7 linked regions of the Homo sapiens genome follow. The protein of the gene in region 2 interacts with the protein of the main gene of each other region in a pairwise test. Each region holds a gene or a part of one and is shown on either strand. Other genes may lie near its edges. The genes, in order: HNRNPCL2, RNF4, UBTD2, ZCCHC17, SCML2, DDX39A and TRIM38.

Evidence for each region.
Region 1: the proteins of RNF4 (region 2) and HNRNPCL2 interact in binary tests that used the Homo sapiens proteins (3 or more experiments, as listed by UniProt).
Region 3: the proteins of RNF4 (region 2) and UBTD2 interact in binary tests that used the Homo sapiens proteins (3 or more experiments, as listed by UniProt).
Region 4: the proteins of RNF4 (region 2) and ZCCHC17 interact in binary tests that used the Homo sapiens proteins (3 or more experiments, as listed by UniProt).
Region 5: the proteins of RNF4 (region 2) and SCML2 interact in binary tests that used the Homo sapiens proteins (3 or more experiments, as listed by UniProt).
Region 6: the proteins of RNF4 (region 2) and DDX39A interact in binary tests that used the Homo sapiens proteins (3 or more experiments, as listed by UniProt).
Region 7: the proteins of RNF4 (region 2) and TRIM38 interact in binary tests that used the Homo sapiens proteins (3 or more experiments, as listed by UniProt).

Annotation. Positions count from the first base shown.
Region 1 is NC_000001.11:13,114,547-13,118,387, forward strand, and holds HNRNPCL2 (heterogeneous nuclear ribonucleoprotein C-like 2), read right to left. Parts: upstream 2,309-3,841; 5' UTR 2,247-2,308; intron 2,036-2,246; 5' UTR 1,855-2,035; coding exon 973-1,854; 3' UTR 942-972; downstream 1-941.
Region 2 is NC_000004.12:2,506,385-2,510,605, reverse strand, and holds part of RNF4 (E3 ubiquitin-protein ligase RNF4), read right to left. Parts: intron 1-4,221. UniProt on the Homo sapiens protein: E3 ubiquitin-protein ligase which binds polysumoylated chains covalently attached to proteins and mediates 'Lys-6'-, 'Lys-11'-, 'Lys-48'- and 'Lys-63'-linked polyubiquitination of those substrates and their subsequent targeting to the proteasome for degradation.
Region 3 is NC_000005.10:172,235,011-172,239,231, forward strand, and holds part of UBTD2 (ubiquitin domain-containing protein 2), read right to left. Parts: intron 1-4,221.
Region 4 is NC_000001.11:31,334,788-31,339,008, reverse strand, and holds part of ZCCHC17 (zinc finger CCHC domain-containing protein 17), read right to left. Parts: intron 1,835-4,221; coding exon 1,734-1,834; intron 53-1,733; coding exon 1-52.
Region 5 is NC_000023.11:18,323,100-18,327,320, forward strand, and holds part of SCML2 (sex comb on midleg-like protein 2), read right to left. Parts: intron 1,879-4,221; coding exon 1,808-1,878; intron 995-1,807; coding exon 760-994; intron 1-759. UniProt on the Homo sapiens protein: Putative Polycomb group (PcG) protein. PcG proteins act by forming multiprotein complexes, which are required to maintain the transcriptionally repressive state of homeotic genes throughout development.
Region 6 is NC_000019.10:14,412,611-14,416,831, forward strand, and holds part of DDX39A (ATP-dependent RNA helicase DDX39A), read right to left. Parts: intron 615-4,221; 5' UTR 611-614; coding exon 403-610; intron 69-402; coding exon 1-68. UniProt on the Homo sapiens protein: Helicase that plays an essential role in mRNA export and is involved in multiple steps in RNA metabolism including alternative splicing. Regulates nuclear mRNA export to the cytoplasm through association with ECD.
Region 7 is NC_000006.12:25,969,070-25,973,290, forward strand, and holds part of TRIM38 (E3 ubiquitin-protein ligase TRIM38), read left to right. Parts: intron 1-255; coding exon 256-351; intron 352-2,799; coding exon 2,800-3,030; intron 3,031-3,984; coding exon 3,985-4,007; intron 4,008-4,103; coding exon 4,104-4,216; intron 4,217-4,221. UniProt on the Homo sapiens protein: E3 ubiquitin-protein and E3 SUMO-protein ligase that acts as a regulator of innate immunity. Acts as a negative regulator of type I interferon IFN-beta production by catalyzing 'Lys-48'-linked polyubiquitination of AZI2/NAP1, leading to its degradation.

The sequences.
Region 1 (3,841 bases), on a different chromosome or scaffold from region 2:
ATAAAAATGAGCTGCTCATGGGGGTGGGTGGCTATAATCCCAGCTACTCAGGAGGCTGAGGCATGAGAATCGCTTGAGCCTGGGAGGCAGAGGTTGGAGTGAGCTGAGATTGTGCCACTCCATTCCAGCCTGGGTAACGGAGTGAGACTCCATCCCGCCCCTCAAAACAAATGTTTTGTAGAGATAGGGTTTTGCCATGTTGCTCAGGTTGGTCTCGAACCCCTGCGCTCAAACGATCCTCCCACCTTGGCCTCCCAAAGTGTTGTAGTTACAGGCATGAGTCATTGCTCCCACCAAGAATTTTTTTTCTTTAAATTGCTGGTTTAATAAAGAGTTGTTTATTTTCAGGGAAAAGGTCCCAAACATCAAGCTGTTCACAAAAATAACCCACGGTATCAACTTTAGAAAACACATTTGAAGACTATAACACCAATTATGTTTCTGAGGATGCATTTGACATGCCAACTCTCATTCACAAAAATACATTGTTAGATTTTTGTTGAACTGCCCCACACAGCACACTAATATGGGGTGTAACACACATACTTGTAACTCCAAGCTGCTTTCAGGAGCTACTCAACTCAATGAGATTGCCTTTGCAGTTAGGGAAGCAACTACTGAACTTATGTATGAAAGAAAAGAACTGTATTCCCTGCATAACAAGAGATTATTTTGGAGACAGTTGATAAAAACCATACATCCTTTTTACTGTTAAGTCATAAAGAGGTGTCAAAATTAAAAGCAAAAATTACAGGGTAAGACTTAGGAAAACTACTAGGGGTGTCATGGGAAGTGAAAATGGGACTAGGCGCAGGGCAATATGAATTAATGAATGTGGGAAGGACAAGGATGGGGAGAACAGTAAGCATGTGCTGAAGATACTAAGGGAGAGGATCTGGTGAAAAATTTGTTGTTAGACAAGCTCCTAGGTAAAGAAACAATGGGATAAGATTTCTCAACCCCACTATGTGCTTAAGAGTCATCCTGGCCATTGGTGCTGTCTCTGTTATCCTCTCCTTCCTCAGCATCTTTTTCATTATTCTTGATCAAATGAAGCTGGTTGTCCCCCTGATCTTCATTATCATCATCATCCAGTGGGTCCCCCTCCTCAGCAGAGTCTTCTGCACCCCCCTCAGACTCCATCTTTACATGAGTCTCATCTTTCTTCATGGAGCTACTGCTCTGCTCCTCTTCTGACTTAGCATTTTTCACCTCTACCTCTTGTTTGCTCTGTTCCTTTTCAATTTTTTCCAGGTTTTCCAGGAGAGAATCCACTTTCTGTTTTATCTGGGTCAACTCCTGCTTAATGGCCTGAAGGTCATCTCCTTTCAGCTTTCCAGACTTGGAAGATCCCCGCTTTCCACTCTTAGAATTGAAGCCACTTTTGCCCCTTCGTGAGGTGTTTCCTGATATGCGCTGGCGTTTCGAGGGCACTACAGCCAGAGCAATGGGAGGAGGAGGAGGTACACGTGCTGGGAAACTGTACATCCCATCATAATAATCCCGTTGAAAGCCATAGTCCAAGTCAAAAGAGGAGCCGTACATCTCCGCTGCGGATCGTTTCACACCTGCGTTTCCTCGGTTCACTTTTGGCTCTGCAGCCAGGTTAATAACTGCAACCTGGCTAGCAATCATTCTGCCATCCTCTCCTGCTACAGCAGCCCGGGCATTTTTCTCCTTATCATATTGAACGAAGGCAAAGCCCTTATGAACAGAGCAGCCCGCAATTTTGCCATACTTGGAAAAGATCGCCTCCACATCAGATTTCTTGACAACAAGAGTGTTGAGATTCCCAATGAACACACGGGAGTTCACGGAGTGAGGATCCATCTTGTTGGTAACGTTGCTGGCCATTGTGTTGGATGATAAGGTTTCTCAAAAAGCCAAAAACAGGAGGCGGGAGGGAGAAGAGATTCGATTCTAAGTCTCCTACTGCCGGGTTCTACGGGGAGAAACTGACTGCGGCTCGAGGCCAGAAATGCAGCCAAAACAGCTCAGTCTTCGTCTCTTCACAAAATGGCTGCCAACAAGAATTCTGAAATGATGTAAAGAAAAGCACAACAACATTTTTGAAATCACGACAAAATTGCATTTAGAAAAAAAAATCAAAGCTTCAAAGTGTTCATATGAAAAAAAGAAAAAAAGACATGATATAGTTCTATGCCATCGTAGGCTGCACTGTCACCGTTCTAGACCGGCTGACTGTAGGTCACATGGGAGTGTCCTTACAGAAATTAGTGACTTACCAGATCTGGTTGTAGTTTAGAAGGTGCTCAGACCTCAGGAAGAGCCAAGCAGGAACTCCAGGCTTGAAGACTTTGAGTTTGTCCTGTGGGTCTTTAGAAGCTTTTATTGACCTTTCTAATCACAACTCCCACCCACGCCCCTCCACGTATCCGCTGCTAGCTTCCAATCAAAAAGCGATATCTGATTGCATTTCTGAAGCTCCACTCAGTTAATCCTGATTGGGTTTTTGACTGTCCGAAGACTAATGGATTGAACGAGATATCCATTCATATCACATATGCATAATCATTTTATGAATTAAGAAATTGACAGAGTTAGGGATAGAGTGGAAATCAAGAATTCATTCACTCAAGGCCAGGTGAGGTGGCTCACACTTGTAATCCCAGCACTTTGGGAGGCCAAGGTAGGTGGATCACCTGAGGTCAGGAGTTCAAGACCAGCCTGGCCCACATGGTGAAACCCTGTCTCTACAAAAATAGAAAAGTTAGCCAGGCACGATGGTGGCTGCCTGTAGTCCAGTTACTCATGCGGCTGAGGTGGGAGAATCCCTTGAACCCTGGAGGCTGAGTTTGCAGTGAGCCAAGATTACACCATTGCCCTCCTGACTGGGCGACAGAGGGAGATTTTGTCAAAAAAAATGCATTCATTCATGAAATCCACAAACACTGATGGAATTTTACTGCTATTTCGCCTTCAAGTCCTGATGTGAGGCAGGGAAGGGGTTGATCTGTTCCAGACATTAGACAGAAAAATAAAACCTGAAAGTAGTGTTGTGGGGAGATCTTTGGCCACATCAAAATTATAAAATTTATAAAAATATTTCTAGTTAAAATAGCTGTATAAACACAGAGGAGTCGTCCCTACAAAATAAGAATAAAGATCTCCATGTATGGAATGGTCTTGTGGGTTTTATATCACCTAAGGTAGCAGTTTCTTCACTCGTGCTGGTGGAAGAGAGGTGCCACTGAGGGCTTGAGTGGTCTCAGGGCTTAGGTTAAGTCTTCTCTGGAAGAAATTGAAATGATACCTGTAAACTTTATAAGTTTAATCAGTGAAGAAGGGAGGGGGAGAAACAAAAATAAACCAAGCTTGCAGCGCATTCAGCATTCACCATGAGGTCAGCTTGCTCTCTGACCTTCTTCCTCATGGTTGCTGGCAGCTTACTGTCCCCAAATCAAGTAGACCTTAGCTTACAGTTCCCCTTAACTACCCTGCAGACAACAATTTAAGCCTTGTAAAACATTAACTTTCTCATTTGAGATATTCTTTCAGGTTCTGCATGTCAGTGAAACTACTGATGCCAGCTGATCTGAAGGGCTCTGCAAGGCACCAACTCACCAAAGAATGCAGTTTTGACATCCTGATGACTTCATCCCTCTTACCTCTACACCAACTTTCCAGCCCCTTGCTATCCAGGATCCACTGGAAACCCTCAGTACTACTTGGGGAGATGAATTTGAGGATATCCTCCTAGCTTCTCATTTAGCCACCCTGTGATCATTAAACTGTCTGCTGCAAACACTGCTGTCTCAGAATATTGGTCAGCTACTGTGCAGCAGGCATAGGAACCTGATGGTCCTGTAATAAAATCATG
Region 2 (4,221 bases):
GAACCGAGTTCCCTCAAACAGACACACTCATGCTACTGGCAGGGCAGGGGATGGAGGCCGATTTGAGCTGCTGAGGGTGTTGGCACTGGCAGGCACAGCTGCATCCTGAAGAAACACTTCTGGCAGAGGCTGCTATGTCTTGAGCCCAGGCCTCTCCTCCCTAGAAAGGGTCTGCAGTACTGTCTACACGAACCCAAAGATATGAGTGCAGGGGGTGGATGCCGCCTCCAGACCTTCTTCATGGAGCAGACACAGCAGCTCCCTAGGTGGGTCAATGCTTCGAGGTCAAGAGTTATTCCTGGAGACCCAGCCCAGACACTGCTGATTTAGGCTTCTCCTTCCATGTTAAAATCCACTAAGCTTAGGAATAATTAGAGTGGATTTTGTTTCCCAAATGGCATCCTGACATACACAAACGGCCATGCAGGAAGAATGCAGGACTGAGTATAAAGGTCTTTGATTTGAGGATGAGAATATAATCCACATACGTGGAGCCACTGAAACGTGCTCCCCTTTCCTCTTAGAGGAGACTGCAGACGGTGAAAAGGGAAATCTGGGGACAATCAGTCAACCTCACCATCAGGACCAAACTTACCAGGGCCGGCACAATGTACTGTCCGCATGAAATCTAGAAAAGGAGGCTCTGGTAACAGTGCTGGCCCTTGGGGAAAGCCTTGGGTTTAGCTGGGAGCAAAAGCAAATTCTTCTGTGGCTAGAAATGACCCCAGCTTTCTACAGCTCCAACATGCCCCCACCCTCTGCCAAGATGACCCACTAATTAGGTGTGGACACCTGGAAAGGGTATGACACTCCCAGTGCCCCAGCCATGACAGTGCGCGTACTGAGTCTTTATGGTCTCTTGTGAGTCATACCCAGCTTGCCTGTGGATGGTACCAAACTGAGGCCTGTCCTGAGCACTGAGCCCAGGGGCTGCTGGCAAGCAGCAGGTGATACACACACAACTACTGGGGTGCATAAGAACAGGGTCGCCAGAGTGTTTCCTCACTGGTAACAATTCTGACTGTCCCCGCTTTTAATGAGAGAAAAACAGCTTCCAGATGAGTCTTCAGTATAAGAACAACACCACAGGCTGGGCGCGGTGGCTCACACCTGGAATCTCAGCACTTTGGGAGGCCGAGATGGGCGGATCACTCGAGGTCAGGAGTTCGAGACCAGCCTGACCAACATGGTGAAACCCTGTCTCTACTAAAACTACAAAAATTAGCTGGGTGTGGTGGCGCGTGGCTGTAGTCCCAACTACTTGGGAGGCTGAAGCAGGAGAATCACTTGAACCCAGGAGGTGGAGGGGGCAGTGAGCCGAGGTCACGCCATTGCACTCCAGCCTAGACAACAATAGCGAAACTGTCTCAAAAAGAAAAAAAGAAAAGCACAGGCCCGGTGGCTCATGCCTGCAATCCCAGCATTTTGGGAGGCAGAGGCGGGCAGAAAACCTGAGGTCGGGAGTTTGAGACCAGCCTGGCCAACATGGTGAAACCCTGTCTCTACTAAAACTACAAAAATTAGCCGGGTGTGGTGGTGGGCACCTGTAATCCCAGCTACTTGGGATGCTGAGGCAGGAGAATCACTTGAGCCCGGGAGGTGGAGGCTGCAGTGAGCTGAGATCCATTGTACTCCAGCCTAGGCGACAATAGTGAAACTGTCTTTAATTAAAAAAAAAAAAAAAAAAAAAAAAAGGCCTGGGGCAGTGGATCATGCCTGTAATCCCAGCACTCTGGGAGGCAGAGGCGGGCAGATCACCCGAGGTCGGGAGTTTGAGACCAGCCTGACCAACATGGAGAAACCCCGCCTCTACTAAAAACACAAAATTAGCCGGGCATGTGGTGGCTCATGTCTGTAATCCCAGCTACTCAGGAGGCTGAGGCAGGAGACTCACTTGAACCTGGGAGGTGGAGGTTGTGGTGAGCCGAGATTGCACCACTGCACTCCAGCCTGGGCAACAAGAGTGAAATTCCGTCTCAAAAACAAAACAAAACAAAAACAAAAAACAAAACAAAACAAAACAAAAACCAAACAAACAAAAAAACAAAACCAACGACCACAGCCTGGCCTCTCAGCTGGTGGACAATACAGTATTGATTACTGGTGTTCCCTCCACCCAGTGGCCGAGTCACATCAAATTCCAGAATCCCTGCAGACATCTCAAGAACTCTGTAATGAACCTAAATCACAGCTATGGCCCTGCAGGTGGCACAGTACTTGCCCAGCACAGAAGATAGGTGCAGAGGGAAGAGTACCAGCGCTTCATAAATGCCTACCAGATGAGTTGAGAGATGGATAGAGGTGTAACACAAGCTCTGGGGCCTCTAATCTATTTGAGAGGCTTTTAAGATAAGTGAAAAACCAAAACTGAAATAACAACAATTAACTAATCCCCTGAACTGAATAGTTTAATTAGTACTGTGGTAAGCTAGCCCAAGATCAGAAATTCACACTTCCTCGGCTGGGCATGGTGTCCCATATCTGCAATCCCAGCACCCTGGGAGGCCAAGGCGGGATGAATCACTTGAGCTCAGGAGGTCGAGACCATCCTGGGCAACACGGCGAGATCCCGTCAATACAAAGAATAAGCTGGGCATGGCAGTGTGTACCTGTAGTCCCAGTACTCCTGGGGCTGAGGCAGGAGGATCTCTTCAACCTGGGAGGTTGAGGCTACAGTGAGCTGAGCTCGGGCCCCTGCCTTCCAGCCTGGGCAACAGAGCAACACCCTGTCTCAAAAAGAGAAAAGAAAAAAAAAAAGAAAAAGATTCACTCACTCATACATTTTATTTTACTCTAGCTTCTTCTCAACTATGGACAACAGTCCATAGGTCAGAGCATTTAGAGACGAGTGGACCTGCAGCAGGCACATCTGATTGGTCACTCGAAGCCCCTTTGTGCTTCTAAAAGCACAGGTGAGCCTCAGAACACCTCTGCATGAAAGAAGCAAGTATAGGAATCACTGGGTCCCGTGCACTCAGGCTGGCCCCTGGCATTTCTAGGAATGTTCACCCAGCCAAGGGCACCAAGACACACTTGCTTTAGACAACTTTACAGCTCACAGCACTGCACATTGCTCCACTGGAAAAACAGCCATCTCCAAGCACTGTGCACACAAAAGGCTACTCAATGTCCAACAGCTACACACATCATGCAGTTACTGATGCCTGTTACTTGCGGCACTGGCAGGAAAGTCGGGAAGACTGGTGCGGACAATCACATTGTAGTTGAGTAGCCAACCCATCTTGGCTAATTCCTGGATATGATGTTTGGGCTTTTCTGAGCTCTTCTTTCTTTCTATGGAATTGGGCTGGCTCACTTATTCCAACAGTGTGCCTCCTGTGTCCTTTACACCCAGAGATCTACAGGGTTCTGTCCCTCCCTCCTTCCCTCCCTCCCTCCCTCTTCCTTCCTTCCTTCCAGAAAAGCCTTTATCAAGCATCCTTTCTACAGAGTCTCATAAATGGAAAACCAGGCAGGATACAGAATAAAACACACATAGTGTGACTTATTCATACATTATAGAAACAGACCAAAAAAAGATTCCAGAAAAATCAACCTTACTAAGAGACAATCTTTGGAAATTTAAGAAAAACAGCCTAAGTAACATTTTCAATAACCTTCCCCTTAAAGAATCTCGATTCCTTAAAGAGAGTTGCCAGTCTCTTTTCTACCACTGCATTGCTTCTAGCCAGAGCAGAGACTGGCATACTGAAAATGCTCATGAAAAGTGACCCAAGGTCAGGCTCAGTGGCTCACAACTACAATCCCAGCACTTTGGGAAACCAAGGTGGGAGGATCACTTGAGCCCAGGAGTTTGAGACCACCCTGGGCAATACGGTAAGACCTTGTCTCTCCAAAAAAATATAAAAAATCAGCCAGGGATGGTGACATACCCCTATAGTCCCAGCTACTTAGGAGGCTGAGGCAGGAAGCTCAATTGAGCCCAGAAGGTACAGGCTGCAGTGAGCCGTGATGGCACCACTGCACTCCAGCCTGGGTAACAAAGTGAGACCCTGTTTCAAGGGAAAAAAAAAGAAGAAGAAGAAGAAAAAAAACAAATTTGGAGAAAGCACACAACTTGGAAAAAAAAAAAAGATTATTTGCTGTTAAAAAGCAACCAAGGAGGCCGGACATGGTGGCTCACGTCTGTAATCCTAGCACTTTGGGAGGCTGAGTCAGGTATATCACTTGAGGCCAGGAGTTCAAGACCAGCCTGGTCAA
Region 3 (4,221 bases), on a different chromosome or scaffold from region 2:
GTAGGCACTGGGAGTACATAGGAAATCTCTGTACCTTCCTCTCAATTCTGTTATGAATCTAAAACTGCTCTAAAAAAATTTTTTTTTAATACAATGAAAGTTTTGTTTTGTTCATTTTAAAAGAACTGCCTAGAAGGTAAGTGTTTCATCAGACTGTAAGAGCAGGATATGAGAGTCAAGAGACACCACGAAAGAGAGGCAAGATACTTGGGGAAGCAAACGGCAATAGTAGCTTGGACACATGAAACCAGGAAGTAGGAACTGAGAAAATCCAAAGAGGTAAAAGATTGCTTTTCAGTGCCCAGAGAAAGAAGAGCCAAACCACCAGAATCATGAACAAACTGATTAGAGGAATGCTTCCTCTAGCATTCTACTCTCTGGACTTTAGTCAAGGAACTGTAAATACCTTTCTCTGGAACTCAAACAGGAACTAATTTACAAAGGGTAGAATCAGTACTTTAGTTTTTTTGAGGAACTGGGAGTAAAAGAGATAATCTTTGATGCTAGGCCAAGGGATTAGCTCCGAACCACAAGGAGCAGAAGAACTATGATACCCTACCCTAGTTTCAACCCAAGAGAAGAAGAAAACAGAGGGCAAGTGGCAGCATCTCCCCTTAGACAATGTTATGTAGTAGTAGCGCTGGAATAAGCCTGATGCAGCATCCTTGCACCCAGATAACCATCTGGTGTATTATCTGTGATCTATTTCCATGGGTCATACTGACCTACAGAGCCATTCTTATTTATGGCTCTGTAAGATTATACAGTGCTATAGATAGGGAATAGTTTGATAGATGGGATAGAAGATAGAAAGAAAATTGAAGCTGGATGAAAAGATAAGAAGAGTGTTGGAAAAGAGTGGGTGGGAAATAAATGACACAGCGAGTGGGAAGGAGAGAGGGTGTGTGTCAAAATTCAATGTTCTATATTTAATTGCAGAAAGAATACCAATTTTAAAGAAATCACTCTCAAACTGGTTCTAAAGCATCCATGAAATTGACTACTCCCTCATTGGCCCAGGGCCAGATGAAATTTGGACTATGCAAAACAGAAAATAAAATGACTCCAGACCCTGGGCTATCTCTACTCTCCAGGCTATATTCTCAATAAAGACTGCCAGGTCAGGTCTCTTCTGTCCTCTCCCCTCAGGGTGGCACACCAAAAGACTAGCTGTTTTCCACTTAAAACACTCAGCATTAACTCAAATACTTTTTGCCCTCTAACTTGTCCTAGTGAAATGCAAAACAGGTGAGTTCTGAAAGGGTGAGGAAGCAGAATAGGAAACCCATCCATTTAGTAGCAGAGCTGGAAACAGAATCCAAGTCTCTTTATTTAATCAACAAATATGTACTGAGTGTCTACTGGGAGTAACACTACAGATGTGCCTATTACATTTAATTCAAATGCGAGAAACACAGTCTATACTAATGATTTTTCCCTACCTCTTCCAAATAATACAGACAATGCAGCTAGAGCATAATTCTCTAGAAGATGTTCAGAATCTGGTCTGATAACCACAACCCACTGATTGCACCAACACGATGGAATGCAAGGTTGATTTTATTTTCTGCTACATTATCATTTAGATGAGTTAGAGACAGTTTACAGACAACACTCAGCTTACTGACCAGGAAGTGGAAGATGGCACAGTAAGCAGGTAGACTCAGTAAGATATTTATCTGAATAAAGTTTTGGGTCTGAGTATTTCTACAGAATTATCTGGCCTCATATGTATTAAATGCATGAGAGATAACTCAGTATAATTTTTCCTGTCATTCTGAGAGAATTACAAAGCATGGACAAAAACAACAAAACCTCTACAGAAGAATCTCAGGACCTAAAACTAAAGCAAATGAAAGGAAGAGGACTTTGAAAAGAGGAAGCCAACAGAAAAACAATCATAATAAGGGTACAAAGTACCTTGGAAAAATTGTAAAACACCTTCCTTACAAATGTGAGGTAGGTTCATTTCACCTCTCTCCGTTTGTACTAAGCATAGATGAACAAAGTCCCACAAAAAGAACAGATGATGCGTTTATGTTGCTTAAGGAAAATCATTCCAAATGCATTTTCTTTAATTTTTAAATTTTATTCATATACTTGAGACAGAGTCTTGCTCTGTCGCCAAGGCTGGAGTGCACTGGTGCAACCCGACTCACTGCAACCTCCGCCTCCTGGGTTCAAGCGATTCTCCTGCCTCAGCCTCTCGAGTAGCTGGGACTACAGGCCCGCGCCACCATGCCCAGCTAATTTTTGTATTTTTAGTAGAGACGGGGTTTCACCATATTGGCCAGGATAGTTTCAATTTCTTGACTTCATGATCCGCCCGCCTCAGCCTCCCAAAGTGCTGGAATTACAGGCATGAGCCACTGCGACAGGCCCCCAATGCATTTTCAAATCTACATGCTGTCAAAAGTTTCACGGTAATTTGTGACATGAAGGAAGATTACTTTTATTTGCCTATTTCTGCCTGTATTATAAACATAATATAGAATATCTGTCTATAGAATGTCCACTGTTAAAAAATGATTAAATCTTTGTAACATAATTACTTTAGTGAAACCACAGAGCAGTGCAGAATTTTCACTACAAAATCTGAGGCTTGAAGCTTCATGTTAAACTAAATGACTAACCTTTGTTAAATAAATAACTGGGAAAAAAATTAGCATTTAGCAAAAGCATTTGAACTATCCTCTCGTGAAAACATGAAAATATTTAGGTTTGTTAAGAGGACTTAAGTTCATATTCATAAACCACTCATAATAATGCATGATATACAATAAAACTGCAAATAAATGTTTGCTAAATAAGTAAAAATGAACTTAGAGGTACTATATGAAATAACATCTTTAAGTCCTTTGGCAAAAATATACAGGCTGTCTTTCTTCTTTTCATAACTTCCCAATCCCTTCCTTAAATGTTAAAGAAATGTCCCTGATTGTCATGCACTTCCTGTGCCTTATCAGAGTACACTTGCTAGGCATTTGTTCACCAAATCTTATCCTTTGAGTTCAGGTGGTGCCACAAACCTGTATTTCTGAAAATGCAGTAGTTGGACATAGATTATCAGCCTGGCAGCTAAGTACCTCATGTTTGTACCAAGCCAAACATTTTTGTAAGATGTAGAATATATACATACTCAACTAGATTTCATTTTATGCTCTTAAACTTTCAGTTTTATCTGCTTCACACATCTTCTGACTGCTGATACCAAAAGAGAGATGCTTGGTAATCATACATAGCATATAGGACTAGGTACCATGCTCTAACAGTGAAGAATTTAAAGACAGGAAACATCTTTTATTCCCCAAATTTCTGCTTCTCTATCCTTAAACTGCAGGTAACCAACCATCTTTAGTGCACTATGAATTAACATATGAGAAATAAAAAATTAATAAAGCAATCTAATCTTAAAAAACCACACAATCTATTTCAGAAAATATCCTTTCCCCCATCAATCCACATTTACTTCAAAACGTGTCCAAAAGTCATCTTTTTCTCAGAAACCTCTTAATCATATTCACCCACTCTTTATCTTTCCTTGTAATCTTTAAACACTTCTTCCCACTCTGTAACAAATAAACAGATCTAACACACAGAAAACCCAAGTAAGGCTTGTTTCTCAGATCTAAATAACACATAATTTTAAATATTTTTACTACATAATTTAAAGCATTCTACCAAAAACTCATTTTGACATTGGTAAAAAACAATCAATTCTGAAGTTAAGTATGATTATAATTGTTTTCCTGTTTTGGGTTCCTCTTTGAAAACCTTGATTTAATGATGGAACGCTTCAAATGAAGAAAGAAGAGGCCATAATGCATGGATAAGGTGAAAATATCAAGATATGACTCAAGCAACAGCTTTAACCGGTTGAAAACTGGAAGCATCAGTTTCCATAAGACAATAGCGTGAGGGGAAAAATGGAGTATTAGAACCCTTCCGTAACAGACGGTGCTAAACTAAAAGGACACTTGCAAATATTTTCACATAAATTTAGAATGCACTATATACACACATATATACATACATGCATAATACATATATTCCCTTTACCTAAAGCAACTAACTGCCAAAAAAAAATAGGGATATGGGAATTAAAATGCCTAAAATGCCAACAATCAATACAATATGCAAATCTTCTCTACTGTTTGAGAATTTAAAGGTAGAAGAGACCTTAGATTGTATAATCCAACCTTACTGACAGATAGGAAACTA
Region 4 (4,221 bases), on a different chromosome or scaffold from region 2:
CTTGATTGACAACCTTCATGGAGAGGGATACTTTTATTCTATCATTTTTCATCTGAAAGAGACCAAAAAAAGTCACCAAAAACTTTAAATACATCATTTAGATGGCCAGTCTAAAATTAAGAGTCAACGTTTTCATCATAACATTGAGCTTCTTTAATGGACCAGGTACTGTGCTAGGAACATTGCAGATACAAATAAGCATAACAGGTAGACCCTGTGGCAGAAGAATTTTAGGAAACAGTCTTAATCTCATTCTTGTCCCTCTGAGGGAAAGACAAAAATGGTAGCTCAAAAAATCCATGGCTTGTGGAAGTAACCAGGCAGAAAATAAAAGTTTTTCTTCCAGGTAAGTTCAGCATAGTGATTTGTTGAGATATCCCTAAGTCCAGAATAGGTTTTTGAATACTTCAAGAGACTAGATCTCCTTCTGGACTTGGTCTAGAGCTTCTTTAAGCATGAAGACATTTGTCACATTGGTCTTCTTTTGCTTCCCGCAGCACATGAAGCACTTCTTCACTTCAGGGTCTTTGCATCAGTTATTCTCTCTGCCTGGAATGTTCCTATCCCAAGTCTTCCATGACTAGTTCCTTTTCTTTAAGGTCTCAGCTCATATTCTATCTCCTCAAAGAGTCCTTTCCTGACAACTAGAAATCTTCTTCCAATAGTGTTTGAACCCAATATAGCACTTAATATAACTTGCAATTATTTTATGTATATTTGTCTTGGTCAGGCATGGAAATTCATGCCTGTAATTCCAGCACTTGGGGAGGCAAAGGCAGGAGGATCACTTGAGCCCAGGAGTTTGAACCAGCCTGGGTAGTAACACAGTGAGACCCCATCTTGACAAAAAAATTAAAAAAAAAAAAAAAAAAAAGGCCAGGTTTAGTGGTGCGTGCCTGTAGTCCCAGATACTCAGGAGGCTGAGGTGGCAAGATCAGTTGAGCCCAGGAGGCTGAGGTTGCAGTGAGCCGTGATGGCACCACTGTACTCCAGCCTGGGTGACAAAGAGAGACCCTGTCTCAAAAAAGAAAGAAAAATTGTCTCTACTTATATTCTATATTAACTCCATAATAGCTGGGATCATTTTTGTCTGGTTCGCTCTTATATCTCCCAAACCTAGCACATATTAAGCACTTAAATATTGTTGAATAATAGTTCTTTCATGCCTATCTCCTGTGCTGTCTCTGGTAGAACAGGACTCAGTGTATGCTCTTATTTCTCCTGTGGTCGGCCCACACCCACAGCCCTCATACCCTCAAGTGAGTAACAGGGTCCTTCAGATTTTTTTCACTTTCTGCACATTGCATGGTGCCAGATATTAGGGAAAATGACTGTAAACTATCTGTGTTCTTTTTGTTTTGTCCCAAACTGAAGTGTATCTGGCAGGTATTCTTTGAAGTCTGTGATAAACACTTGTCCCATAGGTCAACTTTCCTTCTCTCTTTTTGGTTCTTTTTTCTCTCCTCCGGCCCACCCTATGGGTAAACTTCAGGGAGGGAAGTTTTACAAACGTGCACTTATTGCACCACACTTTTATAGCTCATATCATTCCTTCTGAGTTTGCAGGACAGTCTACCAGAAGGTTTGAATTCAGAATAGATTCTAATGGCAGGATTTAAAAATAAGATTATCAGCACAATTAACAAAATTTACACACTCACTATCATAAAATATCAAAAATCCCAGCTCTTCCTAATCCTTTCTAACCACAAGGGAGCCGCACAGAACTTTACCTCTCGGCCAATAAGCTTCACCCACACTTTATCTCCAACATCTACTATCTCAGAGGGCTTATCCACCCGACAGGATGACATATGAGTTCGATGGACCAGACCTGGGCACAAGAAGAAGAAATAACGTAAAGCAGAGGGCATATCTGGTATTTATACTCTAAACTGGATAAGAAGGTAAGAGTTGGGGAATGCAAGGGAAAAATGAAAATTTTTACTGAAAAGCGTGAAACTTAAAACTGCAAATTGAGACTGCTTTTTATACCCAATCAACCAACAAACATTCTTAAAATAATGCTCAAAGTGGCCGGGCACAGTGGCTCATGCCTGTAATCCCAGAACTTTGGAAGGCTGAGGCGGGCAGATTGCCTGAGCTCAGGAGTTCAAGACCAGCCTGGGAAACATGCCAAAACCCAGTCTCTACAAAAAATACAAAAAAAAAAAAACCTGGCCAGGCATGGTGGCACGTGTCTGTAGCTCTAGCTACTTAGGAGGCTGAGATGGGAGGATCGCATGAGCCCAGGAGGCTGAAACTGCAGTGAGCTGCAACTGCACCACTGCACTCCAGCCCAGGTGACAGAGTGAGACCTTGGTTCAAAAAAATAAGTAAATAAAATAGGCCAGGCACAGTGGCTCACGCCTGTAATCCCAACACTTTGCAAGGCCAAGATGGGAGAATACCTTGAGGCAAGGAGTTTGAGACCAGCCTGGTCAACATAACGAGACCCCATCTCTATTTTTTAAATATTGTAAATCTTATTTTAAAAATAAAAAACAAAAAATTTAAAAAATGTAATGCTCCATATTAGTAAAGATGTGATAAAATATCTGTAGTTACACAATACTGATAGAAATATAAGTTGGTAAAATTATTTGAAAGCAAAAAGATAAAGATGTTTATCTTTGATGCAAGAATATCATCAATAGAATTTTTTCAAAGGAAAAACTCACAAGAGCCAAAAAACTTACAGAGCTGAAATAACTTGCAGTCTAGCCTGGGCAACATGATAAAACCCCATCTCTACCAAAAATACAAAAATTACCTGGGCGTGGTGGTGCAAACCTGTGATCCCAGCTACTCAAGAGGCTGAGGTGGGAGCACTGCTTGAGCCCAGGAGGCAGAGGTTGGAGTGAGCTGAGATTGCGCCACTGCACTCCAGCCTGGGTGACAGAGCAAGACCCCCATCTCACAAATAAATAAATACATACATACATACATAAATACATAAATAACTTGCGGTATTATTACCTACAGAGGTTAAAAAATATATAAGAACCATAAAACAACCCTAATGAACAATAACTGGAAAACAGCATGGCAAACATAGTAAATCTGTGGAATAAAAAAGTAAACAGCCATTTAAATTAATTACAAAAAATATTTATGATAGACGTTAAGTTAAAAAAGGAAATATAAACAAGCTACTATTTTTAATCCATTAAATTAGCAAAGTATTTAGAAAATAATATTCAATGTGGTGAAAGGATAGTAAAATAAGAACTATTACTAAGGCTAGAATAAACTTTTGGAAGTCACTATCAATGGCTATCAAGAATGATAAAATACTAATAAACTATTACACATTTAATAAAAATAATTTAAAATGAAATAATTGCTGGGCATGGAAGCTCAGGCCTGTAATCCCAGCACTTTGGGAGGACTGCTTGAGCCCAGGTATTCAAGACTAGCCTGGGCAATACAGTGAGACCCCATCTCTAGAAAAATTACAGAAAAATTAATAGGATGTGGTGGTGCATGCTTGTAGTCCTAGATACTCAGGAGGCTGAGGTGGGAGGATGGCTTGAGCCCAGGAAGTCAAGGCTACAGTAAGCTGTGATGGCACCACTGCACTCCAGCCTAGGTGACAGAGCGAGACTTTGTCTCAAAAATAAATCAAATAATATTTTAATAACATTTAATAAAACACTTATAGCAAACATCCTTTTCCTGTCTGTCCAAAATCCTTTCCTTGGGAGAACCACCTTGCTTATTACATTTTACATATACAAATCAGGATTGTAAACTACAAAAAATTGCCAAAGCCAATCTTTACCACCAGATGGCAAGAGTCTGCCAGAGAAAAGCAAAGAAGAGCACTGGTAAACAAGAAGCAAAGCCCTGGGAGTATAAACTGAGCACCCAATACAGCAAAGGCTGAAGTCCCAGCAATAGAGGAAAGAGACAAGGGGCAGAAACATAACTGAGAAACATAACTGAGAGTTATCCTGGAAGCCCCTGACAAGATTGGCCAAAATGTTTCCCAATTAAGTTTCTGCCCCTTGCAACCAAGAGTTCTAATACTTTATTTGACCCCTAATTGCTTCTGGGAACCTGTCCTAAGAAAATAACTTTATACATAGGAAAAACTATATGCTTCAGGAAAAGTGATTTACATCAAAATATTCAATGTATTTTTAAGACAGGAAAATTTAGAAACAACAAAGGATAACAATTAGGTCAATTATGGTATAGTCGCTTGATGGTCCATTC
Region 5 (4,221 bases), on a different chromosome or scaffold from region 2:
TTTCAGCACTGTAAAGAACCAAATAAAAGTAAATGCCCACCATTCACTCAAAGTATAGAACAGCAACTAAATAAACTAAATCATTTCTTTCCTACAGAGTATCATGGTATGCTTACATTTTAAAAAGAAAAATGTTGCCCCAAATTAGTTACACCCTTTTTACCTTTCAAAAATGTGGCCAAAATTAAAGTACATATTTTGTACCTTAAAATCTTTGCTAAAATCTCCATTTTCTCCTTTTCAAAGACCTAAAGGTACTAATTCCTGTCCCTCTCGCTCTGATTTCTTCCCACTGTAGGTGAAATGAAATTCTTGAGTTTGAAACTGGAACCTGAATGTGGAATCATACCCTTCCCCTAGGCTTATCCCCATACCAAAATTGCTGAATGGCTCAGTGGACAATATTGAGAGAGCATGTGCCTTGTATCAAACGCTACAAAGTTCTTCCCCAGAAGGAGTTCTGAATCTGCATATGTAATCTAGTAGAGCTGGTTTTGACATTTCAAGTTTGAAGACCTAGCATGAGTCTTGCCCTGGAGTGGAGAAAACTTCTACACACATATGCCAAATATGTACTTAAGCAAAACTCCACAACAGATGGTGCTGATTTCCTCTCTCATCATACATTCTCCACAGCAACCACCTGACCATCTATTTGCAAGAATGCCCAAGAAAATAAATTTTAAAAGGCCACTTAAAGCCATTTCTATTGAATATCACATTAGAAAGAATACGCTATTTTTAAAACTTTCTTCTTACCTAGTGGAGGTTGAAGTAAGTCTCCTTCCTTTTCACATGTCCCAACAGGTTGTATGTCTGGGGAATCGACAAGCCTCCAAAAATCATTTCTGTTGTCACTACCATCCAGTCGTAACCGTAACCTGGCCCCAGTAATTCCAATAACCGTAGCAATACATACTGAAGTGGCATTGCGAGGGTCACGGGCTTCCAATTTCATACCAACTTTGAAATCATTCACAGGTGGAATCTGAGACTATATATATAAATAAAATTTGGTTAAAATGCATCAACTATAAGAGAAGACACATGGACAGCTATGTCACCAGAATACCTGAGGAACATTTTAAATAACAGTCACAGTGGATGATGAGTGAGGTCAGAGCTGTAAGAGTCAAGGAAAAGATCTTCAAAATTCTCTCCTTGGCTTGACATGCAGCATAAAAACACTACCCGCTGCTGTTCTCACTCATCTGCCCACTTCCAGGCAACCCAAATACAGCCTCTAAAATATACCGAGTGGCTTTCTAAAGTAAGAATCTGATTAGACCATTCCCCTTGAAATTAGCCAACCAGCAGCTCACCACTGCCTATAATGAAGTCCAACTCCTCAGCACAGTTTAAATGCCCCCACACCTTTAACCTCATTTCCACATTATCGCCTCTATCCACTTTGTGCTCCAGCCACCCCAAGCCATCCCTTAATACTCAGATTCTTTCATGCCCATGTGCCTTGGCTTTGGATGTTCTCTCTGCCTGGACTATCCTTCCTCCCATTCCAACCATCTCAAATAGCATCGCTCCTGTGAGCCCTTCCAGTATGGAGTTATCACACTTCTCATAATTATTTATTTATATGTCTGCCTTTCCTGCCAGATGGGCAATCATAAAGCTTATTATACCTGACATAGAGTAAGTTCTTAATGAATGCAAAGAGACCATCTGGCTCTTAAGAGGCACTACCACAATCCCACTATCTCCTCACACTACCAGAATCTAACAATCACACAGACGTCCTCCAACAAGTTAATAGTTTACATTAACTAACAGCTACAGAATCTTGGCATACCTGACGGAAGCACTCTGAAGGAGCACTTATAGACCCAGTCTCTTTCAAATACTCCTCCCAGTGGAAATCATCTGGAAAAAACACATGTGCAAAATAGTTTCTTAAAGCATATACAATGTAACTTTTAGTATATACAACTTTCAGGATTAAAATGGGTTTTAGTTCCATGCCTCTTAAAAGAAAAAAAAAAAAAACTTCCAAAAGAGTAGATTCAAAAATCCTGATCTACATTTCATGACCAGCATAAAAATAAAAAATAAGACGATATCCTGATAATAATGGCTCAGAAATAAATTATAACCTAGATACTCTCATTGTAATGTGGACTACAGCACAGTGATTCTAAAAATGTGGACGTTAGAAATAACTAAAGAAATTGTTTTAGAGTAATAGCGAAGTCTACCCATCTGTCTCTAATATAAATTTATTCAATAAATATGTTTTCACCACTTTATTCCATTAATGTGAAGGCACTTCTTTGTTATTCATGGGGAGCTAAAGGTTTAGTGTGCAGTCAAACAGAATTTTACCCTTGCAATGCTTTATGGAAAGAAAAAAATGTGGTAACCAGAGTAGTTTCTCAATGGACTATTAGATCTCTATTCAGAGTGTCAAGAAGATGGTGGCAGAACAAAGCAATAAACCAGTCATCAGTACAGTCACTAATATGGATTATTTTAATGACCTACATTTTCTACAGACTCTTGCTGTCCTTCCTCACTTAGTTTTCATGACATATTATAATGTTAGAAGAGAAGATCAGAAAGCAGAGCACATTGCCTGGCTTGAACGTATCATTTCACTGTGCCAGCCAGACTGTCAAGACACTGAGAAAAAGACTTGACAGTAGTAGTGAACAAACTAGTAATTCACATGATGTTTAATTCTCATCATTCATGAGGCTTTTCTATACTCTTGCTAAATTTCCTCACTATAAAAATATTGGGTTTGACAGTTCTCTTTCCTGGAAGAATCTACGTTTACCAGCTTCTTACATTTCCTTCAAAAGATATTATACTTAGATGACTCCCCCCTTGCAGAAAACAAAAAACAAAAAAACCTACAGAGTGCTGATAATGTTTAACAACCAGCTTTCTGGAAAATACAACAAAAAACCTGACTGACAGCGTTTGCAGATTTCCGTGATGTAAATATGACCACCATGGTTGACTGTAAGGTGCCAAGGTAAAACCACCAACCATGAAATTGGGAAAAGATGTACACAATTGGCTCTCCCAAGCCGGTGTGAGCCAGCTCCAGTGTACCACCATTACATATGTGTGTATGCATTTCTATATGTATGTATACATATTATATGTGGTATTAAGCATGTCACATGTAACATTTTGCACCTTGCTTTTGGTTAATAGATCTAAGAGACCGTTTCATCTAAAAGAAAATACTGGGTTTGATTCCACTTCCAGATGATGTGAAGCAAGCACTACCAGCATTGAAAATCATGCATCAGAGAGAGTGTTAAGAATGTGGGCTTTAGGGCCAGGTGCGGTGGCTCTGTAATCCCAGCACTTTGGGAGGCTGAGGTGAACAGATCACCTGAGGTCAGGAGTTCAAGACCAACCTGGCCAACATGGTGAAACACCATCTCTACTAAAAACACAAAAATTAGCCGGATGTGGTGGTGGGCACCTGTAATTCCCAACTACTTGGGAGGCTGAGGCAGCAGAATTGCTTGAACTCGGGAGGTGGAAGTTGCAGTGAGCCAAGATCGCACCACTGCACTCCAGCCTGGGCAACAGAACAAGACTCCATCTCAAAAAAAAAAAAAAAAAAGAATGTGGGCTTTAGAGTCAGATCTGCCTACTTCCAGTATGGCTCTACCTCTTACTAGCTATGTGACCCTGAGCAAGTCATTCACTTTCTTAGCCTCAGTTCCTTCATTTATAAAACGGGAAAAGTAATGTACATGGTACTAGATATGTTGAGAGCTAAATAAAGTAGCATATATGTAAGTCACTCAATAAATGGCACGTTATAAAACTAGAAGTCATAGTTGTGCTCAAATTTATTAATACAGAATAGCTTTGTCAAAAGTGAAAACCGAAATCCACGGCTTCAAAATTAAACAGACCAGATGTTTCAGTGATTGCCCCCTAGCACTACAGATTCTAAGTGAAGCTCTACTACCATATGATCTTGGAGAGCATTAAAAAAGAACAAAACGGGCGAGGCGCAGTGGCTCACTCCTGTAATCCCAGCACTTGGGAGGCCGAGGTGGGCAGATCACCTGAGGTCAGGAGTTCCAGACCAGCCTGGCCAACATGGCGAAACCCCGTTTCTACTAAAAAAAAAAAAATTGCTGGGCATCGTGGCGGGTGCCTCCCAGCTACTTGGGAGGCTGAGGCAGGAGAATCGCTTGAACCCGGAAGGTGGAGGCGAAGGTTGCAGTGAGCCAA
Region 6 (4,221 bases), on a different chromosome or scaffold from region 2:
CATCCCGGACTTGGCCTGGCACAGGACGTCCATGCCCAGGATGGCCTGGGGAATGCACTCATGCTGGACTGCAGGAGAAGCAGAGCGTGAGGGACGAGAACCTGGATGCACCCCCGTGCAGGATCCTCACCAGTTGACCGGGGGCCCACAGTGAGGGCAATCAGAAGAGGCCGAGTCCGGACAAGGCCACAGACACCTGCAGGGCTGGGGTATCCGCCTGGTCAAAGCAGAACGCCCCACTGCCGAGGGCAGCCACAGGCCCCGCTGGGCACAACTGATCCGCGGGACAGACGGGCCCCTCCCTCACCCACGGCAAACTGGAGGCGGCACCGCTCTGGGCGGGCAGGGCTGGTCTTGTCTTGGTGAGGACCTGGGCAAGAGGATAACACCCAGAAGGCGTACCCTCAGAAGGATGCTCAAAGCCACAGTCCACGATGGCCCGCAGGAGCTCCGGCTTCAGCAGAAAGTCCCGGAAGCCAGAGCTGTGGATGGAAACGTAGGATCCCTTGATGTCTTTCTTAGGGGGAGCTGGTGTGCTCTCTTGAGGAGCCTGGGGCTCTTCCTCTTCATCGTAATCCAAAAGATCGTTTTCCACATCCTGTTCTGCCATGATGCTGAGAAGAGAGAGAGGCAGGGTCCCGCGAGTGGGCACAGAAGGATGATGAAGCTTCATTCAAATGGCATTCTCTGCCGCCTCCTTCCATGAGTGAGCCCATCAGCTCTACCTGGGCTGCACCTCGCAGCTTCGCCCTGTCTCCACCTCCCCACCCCCAAGCTACCCCATCTCTCCCCCATGCCCCTCTGGCCACACCCACAGACAGAACACCCTCCACCTCCAAGGGCTTCCCATGGCTCACAGAGTTAAAATCCCAACTCTCACCACAGGCCAGGCAATCCCCTTGGTTTGACCCCTGCTCACCTCATCCCACACCACCCCCAGCCTTGTTCAGCTGCTCAGACCCCTGGAGCCCCTGCCCCAAGCCTTTGAACCTGGCTGTCACCGCCAGGAATGCTCTGCCCCCAGGTCTCTGCACAAATGCCTCCTTCTCCACACGCAAGCCTCAGCTCCAGTGAACCTCCTCAGACTACTCAGCCCAGAGAAGCCCCCTCCCTATCACTCCCCAAGGAACCCACTGGGCTTTCATGGGGCAGGAGCCCAAAGATCCCAGGGGTGGGGCTGCCAGGATGCTGGTGGGAACTGAGTTTGCGAGAGAGCAAGCAGTATCTGTCCAGCCCCAGCTTCTCCCACTCTCTGTGGTCTGCACAGGGGAATAATTAAGTGCTCTCATGAAAGGCCTCCTATTGGGCCTGGGCCAATAAAAATAAAGCTGAGAAGATGGAAAATGGAATTAATACAAAGTCTGCCTACCTCTTTGCTTTATTAATCTAATGCATACCAAGTGCCTGCTGGGTGCAAGGGACCCAAACATGAGGACAATTGTCTTTCGTCCTCCTCCCCTACCCCAGACTCCAGTGGGGGGTGGAGCAGAGGGTGACAGCTGCTACAATTCTTCCTGAGGCTGGATGCTGAGGATCCTAGGCCACTTTTGGCCTCGCTGTCACTCATTCCCGGCTCAGAAACAGCAATTCCATTGTCTCAATGGCTGTTTTCTCTCTCTCAACCTCCCTGTCCATGAGGCAGTGAATCCCACCAAGGCCCTCTGGCCAGTTCTCACCTATGCTACCATGCTGGCCCCAAGCTGCTATCACCTGTTTTATTATTATTATTATTATTATTATTATTATTATTATTATTATTATTGAGATGAAGTCTTGCTGTCACCCAGGCTGCAGTGCAGTGGCGCAACCTCGGCTCACTGCAACCTCCACCTCCAGGGTTCAAGATTCTCCTGCCTCAGCCTCCTGAGTATCTGGGATTACAGGTGCTTGCCACCATGCCCAGCTAATTTTTGTAGTTTTCGTAGAGACAGGGTTTCACCATGTTGGTCAGGCTGGTCTCAAACTCCTGACCTCATGATCTACCCACCTCAGCCTCCTAAAGTGCTGGGATTACAGGTGTGAGCCACCGCGCCTGGCCTTATTATTATTTTTAACTAGAACAGCTTTACAGGCTGCGCGCGGTGGCTCACGCCTGTAATCCCAGCACTTTTGAGAGACCAAGGCGGGTGGGTCACCTGAAGTCAGGAGTTCGAGACCAGCCTGACCAACATGGTGAAACCCCAACTCTACTAAAAATACAAAAATTTAGCCAGGCATGGTGGCAGGCGCCTATAATCCCAGCTACTCGGGAAGCTGAGGCAGAAAAATTGCTTAAACCTGGGAGGCGGAGGTTGTGATGGGCTGAAATCACGCTTCACTCCAGCCTAAAAAAAAAAAAAAAAAAAAAGAAAAGCTTCACAGAGATATTTACATGCTATACAACTCACCACTTAAGGCAGATAATTCAGTGGTTTTTAGTGTAGTCACAGACATGTGCAACCACTACCACATGTGCAATTTTAGAATACTTCATCACCTTGAAATAAAAGCTCCTGTACCCTTTACGTATCCATACCCTAAACACCCCACCCCAGCCCCGGGCAACCACTAATCTGCTTTCTGTTTCTATGGATTTGCCTGTTGTTGTGGACATTTCACATAAATGAAATCTTATAATTTGTGACATTTTGTGTCTGGCTTCTTTCACTCAGCACAGTGTGCTCTACCACATCATCAGTACTCCCTTCCTTTTTTTTCCCCCCTCTTTGAGACAAGGTCTTGCTCTGTTGCCCAGGCTGGAGTGCAGTGGCCCAATCAAAGCTCACTTCAACCTCTGCCTCCCGGGCTCAATCAAGCGATCTTCCCACCTCAGCCTCCCTAGTAGCAGGAGCTACATGCGCCCGCCACCACTAATTTTTGTATTTGTAACAGAGATGGGGTTTCACCATGTTGCCCAAGCTGATCTCCAACTTGTGGGCTCAGGCGATCCGCCCACCTCAGCCTTCCAAAGTGCTGGGATTACAGGTGTGAGCCACCACACCTGGCCTCATTTCTTTCCATGGTCACCTAATGTTCCATCTCACCAACATACTACATTTTGCTTAACCACTGTCAGCTGGACATGTAGGTGCCATCATCTCTTGCCTGAATTAAGCCAATATCCTCCTCCCTGGTTTCCCTGTTGCCATCCCCCAGCCCCTCCCCAGAGCAGCCAGAAAGACCCTATCAAACTAAGTCACGGCCAGGCGCGGTGGCTCACACCTGTAATCCCAGCACTTTGGGAGGCCTAGGCGGGCGGACCACCTGAGGTCAGGAGTCCAGGACCAGCCTGACCAACATGGTGAAACCCCATCTCTACTAAAAATACCAAAAATGTGCCGGGTGTGGTGGCGGGTACCTGTAATCCCAGCTACTTGGAGGCAGGAGAATCACTTGAACCTAGGAGGCAGAGGTTGCAGAGAGCCGAGATCACACCATGGCCCTCCAGCCTGGGCGACAGAGCAAGACCAAGACTCTGTCTCAAAAAAAAAAACAAACCTAAGAGTACATCACTATTCTGCTCAAAACTTTTAATGGGTTCCTACTGTGCTTAGAAAAAAACTCGAGTCCTCACAAAGCCAGCCTACCGGGCCCCTCCTAACCCGACTCCTCTATACTCATACCTCATCTCCCCCATTGCCCCTCACTCGCCAGCCTTGCTGCCGTGTCTCAAACACACCTCAGCACCTTTGCACTTGCTGTTCCTGCTGCCTGGAAGGGTCACAAATCCCCCACTTCTTTTGGGCCTCCTTTGCTCCAGAAAGGCATTTCCTCACAGCCCCAACTAAAACAGCACCGCTTCCAGTCAGCCCTGCCCTGTGAGAACAGCTAATAAGCACTCCATAGCAATGGCTGAATAAATGGAACTAGAATAAAGGCGTTCAGGCAGAGTTGAACATGTCTCTTTATCTGACCCTTCAAACAGGCAATCTGAAGGGGTCACTTCCCAGGCAGCAGGGAAAACAGGAGCCAAGAAAGGTCAGTCCGAAAAGCACCAGAGCCTTTTGGGGTATGCAGAGTAGGACTAGCTGGCTGGCGTCAGGGCAGAAGACAAAGCTGGAAGAGCTGGTCAGCCACACAGGGCATGTGTTTGTTTGTTTGTTTTTTTGTTTTTTGAGACAGGGTCTCGCTCTGTCACCCAGGCTGGAGTGCAGTGGTGCAATCATAGCTCACTGGAGCCTCGACCTCCCAGGCCCAGTGAGTCCACCACCTCAGCTTCCTGTGTAGCTGGGACTACAGGTG
Region 7 (4,221 bases), on a different chromosome or scaffold from region 2:
TATTTTACCCCTTTCTTAGTCTCATTTTCTACAGCACAGAAATGAAGTTTAAAATCCTACCAACTATTCAGGGTTGCCAAGGGGATCAGTATGTTCCTGCACATATAGCCTTTAGCATGCTCTCTAGCAAAAAACAATGAGGACTCTATAAATATTCACTATTATTCAAATATATCTTAGAAGATTGGGATTCCCCCTAGGTCCCTAATGAAGAGTCAAATTGAATAGGCTTCACTTATCAAATTTTTCCTTCAGGAAAAGCTCCAGAAAGCTGTGACAAAACTGAAGCAACTTGAAGACAGATGTACGGAGCAGAAGCTGTCCACAGCAATGCGAATAACTAAATGGAAAGTAAGAATCTGACTTCATTGATCTCAAGCTATTTTCCATTCTAGAGCTTAGGCATAGGGGATGATTGAGGAAAAGCACAATGAGGATTTATTCTCACTAAACCAGATTGAAAAAATGAAACCCAAGGAAGAAACCATTATTTGTACTTATGCCCCTGGTTCCAGGTTTACATCCATGAGTATTTAGCACCAATCTTTCCATCTTTAAACTGTAGTTGGCTGGGATTCCTGATACTTCAGTCAGAAGAAGCAGAATTAGTATGACTATTTACCTAGAAAAAGCATCGAGTGGGTCTCAAACTTTAAATACGTCAAAATAAACCTGGTTTGCAGGCCTCAACTCATTACCCTGGCACTTTTACCACAGTGGAGCATCTGGCTCTCAACTTTACAGGTACAGAAACCAAGCTTTGTGAACACTTAGAAAACAGGATCACTCCAGATTGAAATTCATACTACTCTAGCTCATGAAGCTGATGAAAGAAATATACTTTATTTATTTATTTATTTTTAAATTATTACTATTTTTTGAGATGGAGTCTTGCTGGAGTGTAGTGGTGCGATCTCAGCTCACTGCAATGTCCACCTCCCGGGTTCAAGCAATTCCCCTGCCTCAGCCTCTTGAGTAGCTGGGATTACAGGCATGTGCTACCATGCCTGGCTAATTTTTTGTATTTTAGTAGAGACGGGGTTTCACCATGTTGGCCAGGATGGTCTTGATCTCCTGACCTCGTGATTCACCCACCTCAGCCTCCCAAAGTGCTGGGATTACAGGCGTGAGCCACTGCACCCGGCCTATACTTGATTTATAAGTACATCACAAGTAATGCAACAACCTACACACTTGCAACTACAAACTTTCAGATTATTTCCGTGGCTGACTAACCTCCACATTATCAGAGCCACATTCTTTTATGGAAATATTTAGGTTTGTGCAAAAGTAATTGCGGTCTTTGCCATTAAAGTAAAGGCAAAAACCACAATTACTTTTGCACCAATCTTTATATTTATATAATTCACTAGCTTGCAGTAAAATCCCACAAGCTGATTACCAATTTTCTCTCTTTCAGGAGTCCTCTCTAACCTCTACCCTGATCTTTGTTTGTGGATGTTGCTCTTGAGCTCCTGAGTACACTCTTACTTCCCCCATTTCTAGGATCTTGGGCAATGGGGAAGACCTTGATTGTAACTAACATATATGAAAACCCGTCTATACAAGAGTTAAAGCTGCACCTGTCTCCTACACAAAAATTCCACCTCATCCTAAGTCAAAGACCCTTCTTCTATATCATAGTCATCAAAACACTGTATGAATTTATTTTTATTTTTTAATTTTTATTTTTTTAAGATAAGTAGAGAGTTTATTTGGGCCAAGTTTGAAGACTGCAATCCAAGAACATAGATTCAAATTGCCCTGAATACACACTCCCACTGCATTAATTTAGACAGCACTAATGGAAATTGCAACTTTACATCTCCTCAGATGAGAGTTTCACTTGATTTCTGTCAGTCTTACACATAGGAATGCTTAAGATGACCCTAGGGTAGTAGAACAGTATTTCTCAGTTAACCATAATAAATGCCTGTCACACTCAAAGCTCCCCCTGCCAAGAATTATGGACCCTCTTACCAGCCTGGTTGTCTTAAAATCCAGTCTGGGTGATGTTCATTATAAGCTTTTACTTCAAGAAAATCGCTCCAACTCAGAAATCTAACTTCTTAAATCATAAGTAAAAACCTCTTTTTATCCTTGTAACTGATAAAGTGTTTGAACTTGGCCCTAGTTTCACAATTAAATTATCTAGCACTCCTAACCCAGCTTTCTCCTGTGTCTTGGCTGAAGAACAAGAAAATTAATTGGGTGACTATAAGGAATCTGAGGCAACCTCTTCCACATCTGAGTGCCTGCCTCCCACACATGACTCTGCAGCAGGAAACTGGGGACATTCTTCCAGCTTCAGTGACTCATGAGAAAATAATGTCCCAGTGGCTGATTGTGTGTGTGTGTGTGTTTGTGTGAAAATATATATAACACTTAAGCATTTAACCACTTTTAAGTATATAGTTCAGTAGAATTAAGTGCTTTTACATTGTTACATTGTTGTGCAACCATCACCATTCCCATCTCCAAACTGCAACTCAGTTTCATCTTTCATCTTCTAAACTGAAACTCACTACCCATTAAACAATAACTGTCCATTTTCTGGTCTTGCCAACACCTTGTAACCACTATTTTACTTTCTGTCTCTATGAACTTAACTACTCCAGATGCCTTGTATAAGCAAAGTCTTACAATATTTGCCCTTTTGTTTCTGGCTTATTTTGCTTGAATGTCTTCAAGGCTTGTCATGTAGTAGCGTGTGTCAGACTTTCATTCTTGTTTATCCATTCATCCATAGATGGACATTTGGTTTACTTCCACCTTTTGACCATACTTTCTTGACTCCAGGAGAAGGTACAGATTCAGAGACAAAAAATCCGGTCTGACTTTAAGAATCTCCAGTGTTTCCTACATGAGGAAGAGAAGTCTTATCTCTGGAGGCTGGAGAAAGAAGAACAACAGACTCTGAGTAGACTGAGGGACTATGAGGCTGGTCTGGGGCTGAAGAGCAATGAACTCAAGAGCCACATCCTGGAACTGGAGGAAAAATGTCAGGGCTCAGCCCAGAAATTGCTGCAGGTGAGGCTGTGTACTTGGAGTAGGGAAAAAAGGTATGTTATAGTGCTATTAAAGGAGAATGGTAAGGAAGCATGGGAAGATAAAGTAATGTTTCTTTTAGATGTACATCAGTGCCATCAGGCTGGCCTTCACTAATTTATAGGGTACCTTTATGTCAATTAGAAAAATAAACTTCTGAGGGAACACAGCTTGGCCAAATGAAACCACGGGATAACATTTACCACTGTTTGCCTCCTTGGCCCATGTGCAGAGAACCCTGGTTGTTGACTCTCTCCTGAAATACTCCACTAGGTGACTGATGGGTGATGAAGTGGGGCAGCCAAAATGAGTGATAACCTTTTCCCTGATTTGCTTGTAGAACCCTTGCTCCAGAGCTGTTATGGTACAATCTACAGCTTTATCTGTAGGAAGATAAACATCTGGAGCCATTAATTCTGGTTCTAACTAACAGGATTGGTGACTATACTGTAAGGCTGAGTGTATAGCATGATTGCTTTACCACTGTGTGATACCTGCTACCACCATCTTAGTGGCAGTGGCCCAGTCTCAGGGCTGTGCACAGATTCACCACTAAGGACCTTTATGATAAGTGTTCTCTAATCTGGGCTCACTGTGAAGGAAATCCGATCACCAAAAGCTAGTCCTTACAGAGGGAGCATGGACAAAGCTCCTGGCCCTCAGACTTCAGCAAGGATGAGAATAGATGCAAATGTTGATAAACATCCTGCCATGCTGAATCTCCCAGAAGCTGGTAGGAATTATTCCATCTGGGTATCCATCAATACCTAAGACTGGTGGGAATTACTTTGTTTGAGTATCCATCAATATCTAAGACTAAGACTAGGGTAACTCTCTTTACTTCTTCGGGTAAAGCAAAGAAGAATAGCCCTGCATGACAAGCCCCATGAAATACCGATGTTCCCATGCTCACCTTTTCTTTTTGTTTCTTTATAGAATGTGAATGACACTTTGAGCAGGTAAGTCCTGTTTGAATGCAGGAGGGGAGGGGTGTGCGTATATAGAAATGAATGGAATGCACCTCTGAAGAAATCTCTCGCCTCTGCTTATTCTAGGAGTTGGGCTGTGAAGCTGGAAACATCAGAGGCTGTCTCCTTGGAACTTCATACTATGTGCAATGTTTCCAAGCTTTACTTCGATGTGAAGAAAATGTTAAGGAGTCATCAAGGTATG